Linked DNA regions of Homo sapiens. The protein of the gene in region 2 purifies or fractionates together with the protein of the main gene of each other region. This does not show direct contact. Each region holds a gene or a part of one and is shown on either strand. Other genes may lie near its edges.

Region 1 (3,650 bases), on a different chromosome or scaffold from region 2:
AGACAAACAGAAAGCCAAATCATGAGTGAACTCCCATTCACAATTGCTTCAAAGAAAATAAAATATGTAGGAATCCAACTTACAAGGGATGTGAAGGACCTCTTCAAGGAGAACTACAAACCACTGCTCAATGAAATAAAAGAGGACACAAACAAATGGAAGAACATTCCATGCTCATGGATAGGAAGAATCAATATCATGAAAATGGCCATACTGCCCAAGGTAATTTATAGATTCAATGCCATCCCCATCAAGCTACCAATGACTTTCTTCACAGAATTGGAAAAAACTACTTTAAAGTTCATATGGAACCAAAAAAGAGCCCACATTGCCAAGACAATCCTAAGCCAAAAGAACAAAGCTGGAGGCATCATACTACCTCACTTCAAACTATACTACAAGGCTACAGGAACCAAAACAGCATGGTACTGGTACCAAAACAGAGATATAGATCAATGGAACAGAACAGAGCCCTCAGAAGTAATACCACACATCTATAACCATCTGATCTTTGACAAACCTGACAAAAACAAGCAATGGGGAAAGGATTTCCTATTTAATAAATGGTGCTGGGAAAACTGGCTAGCCATATGTAGAAAGCTGAAACTGGATCCCTTCCTTTTACTCCTTATACAAAAATTTATTCATGATGGATTAAAGACTTAAATGTCAGACCTAAAACCATAAAAACCCTAGAAGAAAACCTAGGCATTACCATTCAGGACATAGGCATGGGCAAGGGCTTCATGTCTAAAACACCAAAAGCAATGGCCACAAAAGCCAAAATAGACAAACGGGATCTAATTAAACTAAAGAGCTTCTGCACAGCAAAAGAAACTACCATCAGAGTGAACAGGCAACCTACAGAATGGGAGAAAATTTATGCAATCTACCCATCTGACAAAGGACTAATATCCAGAATCTACAAAGAACTTAAACAAATTTACAAGAAAAAAATCAAACAACCCCAACAAAAAGTAGGCGAAGGATTTGAACAGACACTTCTCAAAAGAAGACATTTATGCAGCCAACAGACACATGAAAAAATGCTCATCATCACTGGCCATCAGAGAAATGCAAATCAAAACCACGATGAGATACCATCTCACACCAGTTAGAATGGCGATCATTAAAAAGTCAGGAAACAACAGGTGCTGGAGAGGATGTGGAAAAATAGGAACACTTTTACACTGTTGGTGGGACTGTAAACTAGTTCAACCATTGTGGAAGACAGTGTGGCTATTCCTCAAGGATCTAGAACTAGAATTACCATTTGACCCAGCCATCCCATTACTGGGTATATACCCAAAGGATTATAAATCATGCTGCTATAAAGACATATGCACATGTATGCTTATTGTGGCACTATTCACAATAGCAAAGACTTGGAACCAACCCAAATGTCCATCAATGATAGACTGGATTAAGAAAATGTGGCACATATACACCATGGAATACTATGCAGCCATAAAAAAGGACGAGTTCATGTCCTTTGTAGGGATATGGATGGAGCTGGAAACCATCATTCTGAGCAAACTATTGCAAAGACAGAAAACCAAACACCACATGTTCTCACTCATAGGTGGGAAGTGAACAATAAGAACACTTGGACACAGGGTGGGGAACACCACATACTGGGGCCTGTCATGGGGTTGGGGGAGAGAGGAGGGATAGCATTAGGAGATATACCTAATGTAAATGATGAGTTAATGAGTGCAGCACACCAACATGGCACATGTATACATATGTAACGAACCTGCACGTTGTGCACATGTACCCTAGAACTTAAAGTGTAATAATAAAAAAAAGCTATCAGCAAACTAGATATAGAAGATAACTTCCCAAAGCTGATGAAGGATATTTATGAAAATTTACAGGTAAATCATAATTAATAATGAAAATCTAATTGCTTTCCTCCTGGCATCAGGAGGAAATGTATTTGATTTGTTCTTAATACTAGGAACCAGCAGAATCTAAGTTTTTACCTATTCAATATTTTAGTGAAGGTCCCATCCAATAAAATAAGGCAAGAAAGAAAATAAAAGGCTTATCAGTTGGGAAGGAAAATATAAAAACTGTCTTTTTTTCACCAACAGTATTACCAATGCAGAAAATCCAAAGGAATCTAAACAAAAAAAAACTGTAATAACCATTAAGTGAGTTTAGCAAGCTCCTAGGGAATACATCAATACACAAAACTAATCCATTGTATTTCTAAATACTACAAGAAAACACCTAGAAAATAACATTTAGAAAACAGTGCCATTTGCAATAGCACCAAAAATTTAAATACTTTGGGAGAAAGTTAACAAAACATGTACAATGCCCATGCAAAACACTGCTGATAGGAATTAAAGAAGACCTAAATAAATGGTGAGAGATACCACATTGAGAGACTGGAAGACATGATATTGTTAAAAATGTCACGCTTCAGTTCCTTGACTGTCGATCCAGTACCAGAACAAATCCTTTACCGCGTACTCCCCTCAGCTGAGTGGTCCAAGTTCTCCAAACTCTGTCAGCTTATAGCATCAATAACTGACAGGAATCTTGGAAGAATAAAAACTGGCTTCCATCTTTTAAAAAGATATTTTATCTAATATATTTTTAATGAAGCTCATAGAATTTTAATCCAATGTGATGAACAAAAATAGATCAGAGTCTATGTTAAAATGAAAGACAATAATGAGGGAAGAAGGGAGAGTCAGACAGAAATTGAGGGTCACAGAGATGAGCGAGGGAAGAAATAAGAGACAAAGAGGCAAAGAAGGACAAAGAAACGAAAGAGACAGATGAAGAGAGAAACAGAGAACCAAAAATGAGGAGCTGACAGAGGCAGAGCAGTAGAGAATGAAATGGAGATATCAGCAAGGGGTAGGGCGAGAGAAAATCAGACAGAGGCAGAGACACAGGAGAGATACAGAGATCAAGGTTCCTCGGACAGAGAAGGGAAGAGAGAGGAGTCACACTCTTCCCTGTCCCCCCTTCCCACTCTTATCCATCTTCCTGCCCCTCACTGAAAAAAAAAACATCAAATAAAACACTTATCCAAAATCCAATTATAAATCACATCCATTCTGCCATCATGGAAATGAGTAACCAGGAATTTCAATTTCAATGAGTGCATAGAAAGGATGGAAGCTATTAGTGTATGTATGTGAGCAGACACACACACACACAGAGCTAGTGCCTCTGTAGCATCTCTCTGTTCCTACAGCGTATCTCAAGCTGGTTCTAGGATCACCTGCGCTGCACAAAAGAAGAAATTGAACCTTATAAGGCAAAGGTTTCTGAACAGAGGGAGGAACCTAGCCAGCTCCATGCCCTCTTTCCTCCCCTCAACCCTCAAAGGACATCCTCTGAGGAGCATGAGAACGCTTCCTCATTTTCCTTGTTTAAAATACTCTCCACCTTCTCTGAGAAAATACCCGCACCCTTCAAGTTCCCCAAATTATTCAGGGACAGGGTCTTGTCCACCTCTGTGCTTTGAGCATGAGTATAGGGCCTGCTACCCAAAAGTCATTAGTAAGTGTCTGTCAGGTGAATAAATGTACGCTGGTTCTAGATATATATGAATATACACACATATATACATTAGACATGTTTGCTATCCATGTACATATGAACTTTTATAAAGTAATTCATTCATA
Region 2 (3,650 bases):
ATCTCAGCTTACTGTAACATTGCCTCCCAGGTGCAAGCAATTCTCCCACCTCAGCCTCCTGAGTAGCTGGGATTACAGGCATGTACCACCATGACTGGCTAATTTTTTTTTTTTTTACCGGGGCGTTCCTGAGTTTACGTGGGGCACACCTGGGTGAGGGCCCTACCCCTAGAAGAAGGTGTTGGGCCTTTTGGTGGTGAAGCGTGGCTTGTGCTGATGGCGCAGGACCTGGTGGGGCAGCGGGAACTTGATCTTGGAGTCTTGGAACTGCTTGACGGCCAGCCGGTGGGACTTGCTGGCTGCTATCTCCTCCATCTTCATGATCTGGATGGAATGGGTCCAGGTGGGGTACCGGGCGCCCATGTCTCGGTAGCACTGGGTGACAGCGCCCGTGGTGGTCAGGTCCCAATATTCCTGGTACATGTTGTGGGTGCTGCTCTGGGAGTTTGTAGCGCAGCCAGATGCCGAAGTTCTTCACCCGCAGGCGGTACTTCTCGAATGCCTGCCCACAGTTGACAGTCTCCCCGAAGACTTCTTCATCTTCTTTAGCTGAGATACAAAGTACCAGAAGTGGGACTTGGCAACGACATGATCAGGTGCAAAGATTCGCATGTGGTAGAGGGGTGGTGTGTGGCATTTGGGAGTGAGCAGGCAGCAACCCACCACCTTGTACTCTTGTAGTGTGCCCGAGGCCTTCATGGCATCCTCTCCATGCTTGCCGCCACCGGCAAAAGGAGCCTGGCTAATTTTTGTATTTTTAGTAGAGATGGGGTTTTGCCACGTTGGTTGGTTGGTCTTGAACTCTTGACCTCAAGTGATTATCCTGCCTGGCCTCCCAAAGTGCTGGGATTACAGGCGTGAGCCACCACACCTGGTCTTATTCTTATTTTTCAGACAGAGTCTTCCTCTTTCGCCCAGGCTGGAGTGCAGTGGCACGATCTTGGCTCACTGCAGCTTCTGCCTCCTGGGTTCAAGTGATTCTCCTGCCTCCGCCTCCTGAGTAGCTGGGGACTGCAGGAGTGTGCCCCCAGCCTGGCTAATTTTTGTTTTTTTGTTTTTTTAGTAGAGATAGGGTCTCTCCCATGTTGGCCAGGCTGCTCTCGAACTCCTGGCCTCAGGTGATCTGCCTGCTTCGACCTCCCGAAGTGCTGTGATTACAGGCGTTAGCCACCACGTACAGCCATAACTTTTACTGAAAAAAAAAAAAAAAATCCACGTATAAATGGACTTATGCTGTTCAAGCCTTTGTTGATGAAGGGTCAACTGTACGTTGCCGATGGGAATGTGAAATGGTGCAGTCATCCCCAAAAACAGTCTGGCAGTTCCTAAAAATGTTAAACATGTAGTTACCATATGTCTCAGCAGTTTGACTCCTAAGTATATACCCAAGAGAAGTATAAACATGTGTTCACATAAAACTTCTACACGAATGTTCATGGCAGTAGTAGTTATAACAGTCAAAAACATTTGGCAAACAACCCCAAATGTCCATCAATTGATGAATGCATAAATAAAATATGGTTATAGCCATACAAAACCTGGTTATATTCCATTCCAAAAACAGTGGAATTGGCCGGGCATGATTGTAATCCTAGCAATTTGGGAGGCCAAGGTGGGTGGATCACTTGATGTCAGGAGTTCAAGACCAGCCTGGCCAACATGGTGAAACCCTATCTCTACTAAAAATACAAAAATTAGCTGGGTATGGTGGCGGGTGCCTGTAATCCCAGCTACTTGGGAGGCTGAGGCAGGAGAATCACTTGAACCCGGGAGGCAGAGGTTGCAGTGAGCCAAGATCATGCCATTGCAATCCAGCCTGGGCAACAAGAATGAAACTCCATCTCAAAAAAAAAAAAGCCCGGGTGCGGTGGCTCACGACTATAATCCCAGCACTTCGGGAGGCTGAGGCGGACGGATCACAAGGTAAGGAGTTTGAGACCAGCTTGGCAACATGGCGAAACCCCATCTCTACAAAAAAATCTATAAATTAGCTGGATGCAGTGGCACACACCTATAGTCCCAGCTACTCAGGAGGCTGAGGCAGGAGAATCGTGAGCCCGGAAAGCAGAGGTTGCAGTGAGCTGAGATTGTGCCACTGCACTCCAGCCTGGGAAACAAAGCAAGATCCTGTCTAAAAATAAAAATAATAAAAATTAAAAAAAAATCTATGCATGAACCTTGAAAACACGTCAGTGGGCCAGGTGCGGTGGCTCACGCCTGTAATCCCAGCACTTGGGGAGGCTGAGGCTGGCGGATCACTTGAGGTCAGGAGTTCGAGACCAGCCTGGCCAACGTGATAAAACCCCATCTCTACTAAAAATACAAAAATTAGCCGGGCGTGGTGGCATGTACCTGTAATCCCAGCTACTCGGGATGCTGAGGCATGGGAATCGCTTGAATCCGGGAGGCGAAGGTTGCAGTGAGCCGAGATGGCACTATTGCACTTCAGCCTGGGTGACAGAGCGAGACTGCATCTCAGAAAAAAAGAAAAAAGAAAAAAAACATGTCAAGTGAAGGAAACCAATCATAAAGGAGCACTTGTGATTCCAGATTCCATTTGTATGAAATGGCCGGCATAGGGAGATCTATAGAGACAGTGGATGAGTGGTTTCTTGGGGTTGGGAGTGAAGGGAAATTGAGTGCTAATGGGTACAGGGTTTCTTTCTTTTTTTTTTTTCTTCTTTTTTTTTTTTTCTGGAGATGGAGTTTTGCTGTTGTTCCCCAGGCTGAGGTGTAATGGCATCATCTTGGCTCACTGCAACCTCTGCCTCCTGGGTTCAAGCAATTCTCCTACGTCAGCCTTCCCAGTAGCTGGAATTACAGGCGTGCGCCACCATGCTCGGCTAATTTTTTGTATTTTTAGTAGCGATGGGGTTTCTCCATGTTGGTCAGGCTGGTCTCGAACTCCCAACTTCGAGTGATCCGCCCGCCTCAGCCTCCCAGAATGTTGTGATTACAGGCGTGAGCCACCGCGCCTGGCCAGGTACAGGGATTCTTGTTGGAGTGACACAGATTTTGTAAAATTAGATTGTAGTGGCTAGGAGTGCTGGCTCACACCCATGATCCCAGCACTTTTGGAGACAGAGATGGGAGGATCACTTGAAGCCAACAGTTCGAGACCAGCCTGGGCAACACAGCAAGACCCTGGGTCTCTGCAAACTATTTTCAAATTAGCTGGGCATGGTGGCACGCGTCTGTAGTCCCAGCTTCTCGACGCTCTGGGGCTGGAGGATCACTTGGGCCCAGAAGTTGGAGGCTGCATTGAGCTATGATCACGCCCCTGGGGCAGCAGGATTAGGGTGCTGTCCCAAGAACAAAGTCTTTGAGTCATCAGCCTGTTTCTTGGGTAAGGTAAACATTGGGGCTGGTGAGTGAGCCACATAATCTGGAGTGTGCCCTCGACCCTGCGGGGCCCTTGCGTCTGTTAGCATCTGTAAGGTGCCAGGCTAATGCTGAATCTTCTTTTGGGCCAGGTGATTGTCTGACAAGCAGAGGCATGAGCTGGGTCCAGGCCACCCTACTGGCCCGAGGCCTCTGTAGGGCCTGGGGAGGCACCTGCGGGGCCGCCCTCACAGGAACCTCCATCTCTCAGGTAAGCACCAGCCAGGCAGTCTTTTGGGTAGAGGGAGGTAAGCTTGGGATTTGCTCCC
Region 3 (3,343 bases), on a different chromosome or scaffold from region 2:
CAGCCGGAAGAGCACCAACAACAGGGAAGACTTGCCGGAGCCTGTGCGGCCCACGATGCCCAACTTCTCTCCAGGCTGCACGCAGAAGGTCACTCCATCCAGGGCATTCGGCAGCCCTGGCCGGTACGCCAACACCACGTCCTGGAACTCCACGCCCCCCTGGGTCAGCCAGCCGGTGCCCAGCTGGTGGGGTCCATGGGTGGGAGACAGACGGGGAAAGGGAGATAGGGGAGATGAGGAGCGATGGTGAGGAGGGGAGAATAATGAGAAATGGACAGTGTGAGAGGAATGAGAGAATGAGAGATGGGGAAGAAGGGACATGGTGAAGAATTGTGGTCATCATGAAGAGAGGTTATGGGAGCTGAGAAAGATGGGTGGGCAAAAAGAAAGGAATTGTGAGGGAGACTGGGGCCTTCAGGGTTCCAGAGCTTTGGCCTGGGGTGGGGGTACAGGCCCACCTGCAGTGGCTGGCCCTGGGGTTCCTGGGGCAGGTCACAGGTGTACTCTTCCAGCCGCTCGACGCTCACCAGCATGGCCTCTGTCTGTGTGAAGCTGCTCACCAGGCCCGAGAGCAGGCCCGTCAGGGACAGGGCATAAGACAGCGACAAGCCCACCAGCCCTGGGGGAGAGAAGTACCAGCTGCTGGGAGAGCTTGGACACCGGGACGTTTGTGGGAGACTCCCCAGGCTGTGGACTGCTGGCATTTAAAGGAAGCAACAGAGGCTGGGCGCGGTGGCTCACGCCTGTAATTCCAGCACTTTGGGAGGCCAAGGCAGGTGGATCACGAGGTCAGGAGTTTGAGACCAGCCTGGCCAACATGGTGAAACCCTGTCTCTACTAAAAATACAAAAATTAGCTGGGCGTGGTGGCAGGCGCCTGTAATCCCAGCTACTTGGGAGGCTGAGACAGGAGAATTGCTTGAACCCAGGAGGCAGAGGTTGCAGTGAGCCGAGATCGTGCCACTGCACTCCAGCCTGGGCAACAGAGCGAGACTCCATCTCAAAAAAAAAAACAAAACAAAAAAGCAACAGAGAAGCAGGAGGGTGATAGGACCTAGCCAGGAGCACAGGAGGCCAGATGCAGGGCAGGGGGTGGGCCTGGAGAAGCTGGGAGGGACGGCATGTGGGAGACTGAAGCGGGCTGGGGCAGTGTGGTGGGGACGGGGTGGAAGCAGGGAAGGGACTGAGACCAGCAGCTCAGAAGACTCATTCTAGTCCCCAAGCCACCACCACCTGGGCAAGTCCCTCCTGGGGATTGTCTCCTCAACTCCAAACGGGGGTGATGATGATAATCATGATACATCCTCACAGGGAACCCTGGGTGGGAGGTGAAAATGTTGGGGGGATGGTGCAGGGAGAGATCTGGGAGAGCGGTGGACTAACTTGTGGATGAGGTAGGGGTGAGGGGTCCTGGGTGGCACCTGGGTTAGCGAGGCCCTGCTGGTGCTGCACCAGAGCGATGCCTGCGATAGCGCTGACCACTGCCGCCCCCATGAGCTGTAGCCGAATGTCCAGCCACTGCATTGTGGCACTGGTGGCAAACTGGCACCTCTGGTTTAGCTCAAGGAGTCGCAGGTTCTCCTCCTCAAACCTAGGGAAGGCCAGAGGGATGTGAAGCCACTCCACTGTTGCCCTGAGCCACCCAGCCTCAGGGCCTCAACAGGGAAGGCCCTTATTGAGCAGCTCCTTCTTGGGAGCTGGTCTGTATACCCACAGGCCTCCCTCAGGGCTGCAGATGCCAGTGTGCTCTTTCAAAGTGGGGGTCCACTCTGCCTCCCTATCTCCTTCTTCTGTTGCTTTCCTCCTTCCCCATCCCTTGTCCCCAGGAGGGCTGAACCAACCATACCCTGCATATTCCTCTTCTTGGGGGTCTCTCTTTTCCTCTCCCCCCAACACCTCATCCCCCTGGGCTCTGGTTCACACACCTGTAGGTGGCCCCTGTGGCCCGGAGCACAGAGAGGCCAGCCAAGGTATCGGCCAGATGGCTATACAGTGGAGACAGGGTGAGGCTGCCCAGGCGCCGCAGCTCCCGTGAGGAGGCCCTGTAGTGGCGCTGCACGTGATAGTACATGATGCTCAAAGGCGGCAGCAGGAGCAGCAGCCAGGGCAGGCCAGAGCCCAGCACGGCCAGGAGCCCCAGCAGGCCTGCCGCGTTGGCCAGGAGGATGTTGAGGATGAAGGGCAGGCTGTCATCCGCACAGGCCACATCAGAGGAGAAGCGGTTTAGGATCCGGCCCGTGGGTGTGGCATTGAAGAAAGTCACTGGTGCCTGGGAGAAGGACGCTGATTGGGCCAGGGCAGAGTCTGGCAGAAGAGGGGTTGGCAGGCAGCACTGGGGGAGGTGGGGTGGAGGGGAAGGCCCAAGATAGAGAATAGGGAAGGACTAAAATATCCCCAGAATTTGGGGGCAGAGAAGAGAGATTGGCAGAGGTTGAGGAAGAATATCCCAGGGCAGGAAAGACTCTCCCATCCCCAGTGGAGCCCGAGTATTGGGAGGACACTCCACAGGGGCTAGGACTGCACTCCCCTACCCCCGAGGTCCCAGCCCCTCACCATAAGGACTCGATGCAGCAGGCGGCGATGCAGAGTGGCAGCTGCTTGAAGGGTGCCTGCTGCAAAGAGCACTGCCCGGAGAAGGGTGCAGAGGGAATTTACACCAGCAATGGTCGCATACACGGTGAGGTAGAAACGGATGTCTGAGGAGCCATTGGGGGCAGCTTTGGGCAGTGGGAACACTGGGATGCTGGGTGGTGAGGAGGGGGCTGTCGGTAACCAAAACTAGGGCCACTCGGGGGTCCTTTCTCCTCCCCCATGCCATCTCTCCCACCCTCCAGAAGTCACAGCATCTGGAATACCGGCCACAACCCTCACTCCCTGCCTGGCGACCACTCTGAGAGCACCAGGCCTACCCCCAGCCCCAGCCACTCACTAGAGGTTTCCAGGGGAAAAGAGGAGCAGCTGCGGAGAGAAGAGCCCCATAGAAGCTGGGCTGGTGGAGGGTTGCGCCTCCTGGGAGCTATTCTCAGCCTTCAGCTGAGAGATCCAGTGGGAGAGCCACCAGTCAGCAGCGTTCCGCGTGGCTGGGTGGGGACAGGAAGGAAAAAGCTGTAAGAGGCTCCTCTCCCTTGTTCATTCTATTCCAATGCCCCCTTTCTCCGCCCTTGCCTCTGGTTCCTGCCCATCTCCATCCGCCTGGCCTGGCCTCCCCACCCTGCCACTACCCCATATCCTCCCTAGTGTGGGCTTCTCTCATAGGCCCGTCACCCTTCAGCTCTGGGGAGAACAGGATCTCAGACTTGCAGAATGGGAGCTAACCTAGGGGGCAGAACAGAAGCCAGCTATAG

Evidence for each region.
Region 1: the proteins of ECSIT (region 2) and DECR1 purify together in Homo sapiens (affinity purification with mass spectrometry; 2 studies listed by BioGRID and IntAct, with this or other methods). This does not show direct contact.
Region 3: the proteins of ECSIT (region 2) and ABCC10 purify together in Homo sapiens (affinity purification with mass spectrometry; 3 studies listed by BioGRID and IntAct, with this or other methods). This does not show direct contact.

The regions. Positions count from the first base shown.
Region 1 is NC_000008.11:90,021,878-90,025,527, reverse strand, and holds part of DECR1 (2,4-dienoyl-CoA reductase [(3E)-enoyl-CoA-producing], mitochondrial isoform 1 precursor), read right to left. Parts: intron 1-3,650. UniProt on the Homo sapiens protein: Auxiliary enzyme of beta-oxidation. It participates in the metabolism of unsaturated fatty enoyl-CoA esters having double bonds in both even- and odd-numbered positions in mitochondria.
Region 2 is NC_000019.10:11,519,017-11,522,666, reverse strand, and holds part of ECSIT (evolutionarily conserved signaling intermediate in Toll pathway, mitochondrial isoform 1 precursor), read left to right. Parts: intron 1-116; exon of another isoform or gene 117-736; intron 737-3,473; 5' UTR 3,474-3,496; coding exon 3,497-3,592; intron 3,593-3,650.
Region 3 is NC_000006.12:43,444,524-43,447,866, reverse strand, and holds part of ABCC10 (ATP-binding cassette sub-family C member 10), read right to left. Parts: intron 3,080-3,343; coding exon 2,929-3,079; intron 2,743-2,928; coding exon 2,553-2,742; intron 2,269-2,552; coding exon 1,925-2,268; intron 1,591-1,924; coding exon 1,421-1,590; intron 1,317-1,420; coding exon of another isoform or gene 1,054-1,316; exon of another isoform or gene 967-1,053; intron 620-966; coding exon 459-619; intron 362-458; coding exon of another isoform or gene 353-361; exon of another isoform or gene 269-352; intron 184-268; coding exon 1-183. UniProt on the Homo sapiens protein: ATP-dependent transporter of the ATP-binding cassette (ABC) family that actively extrudes physiological compounds, and xenobiotics from cells.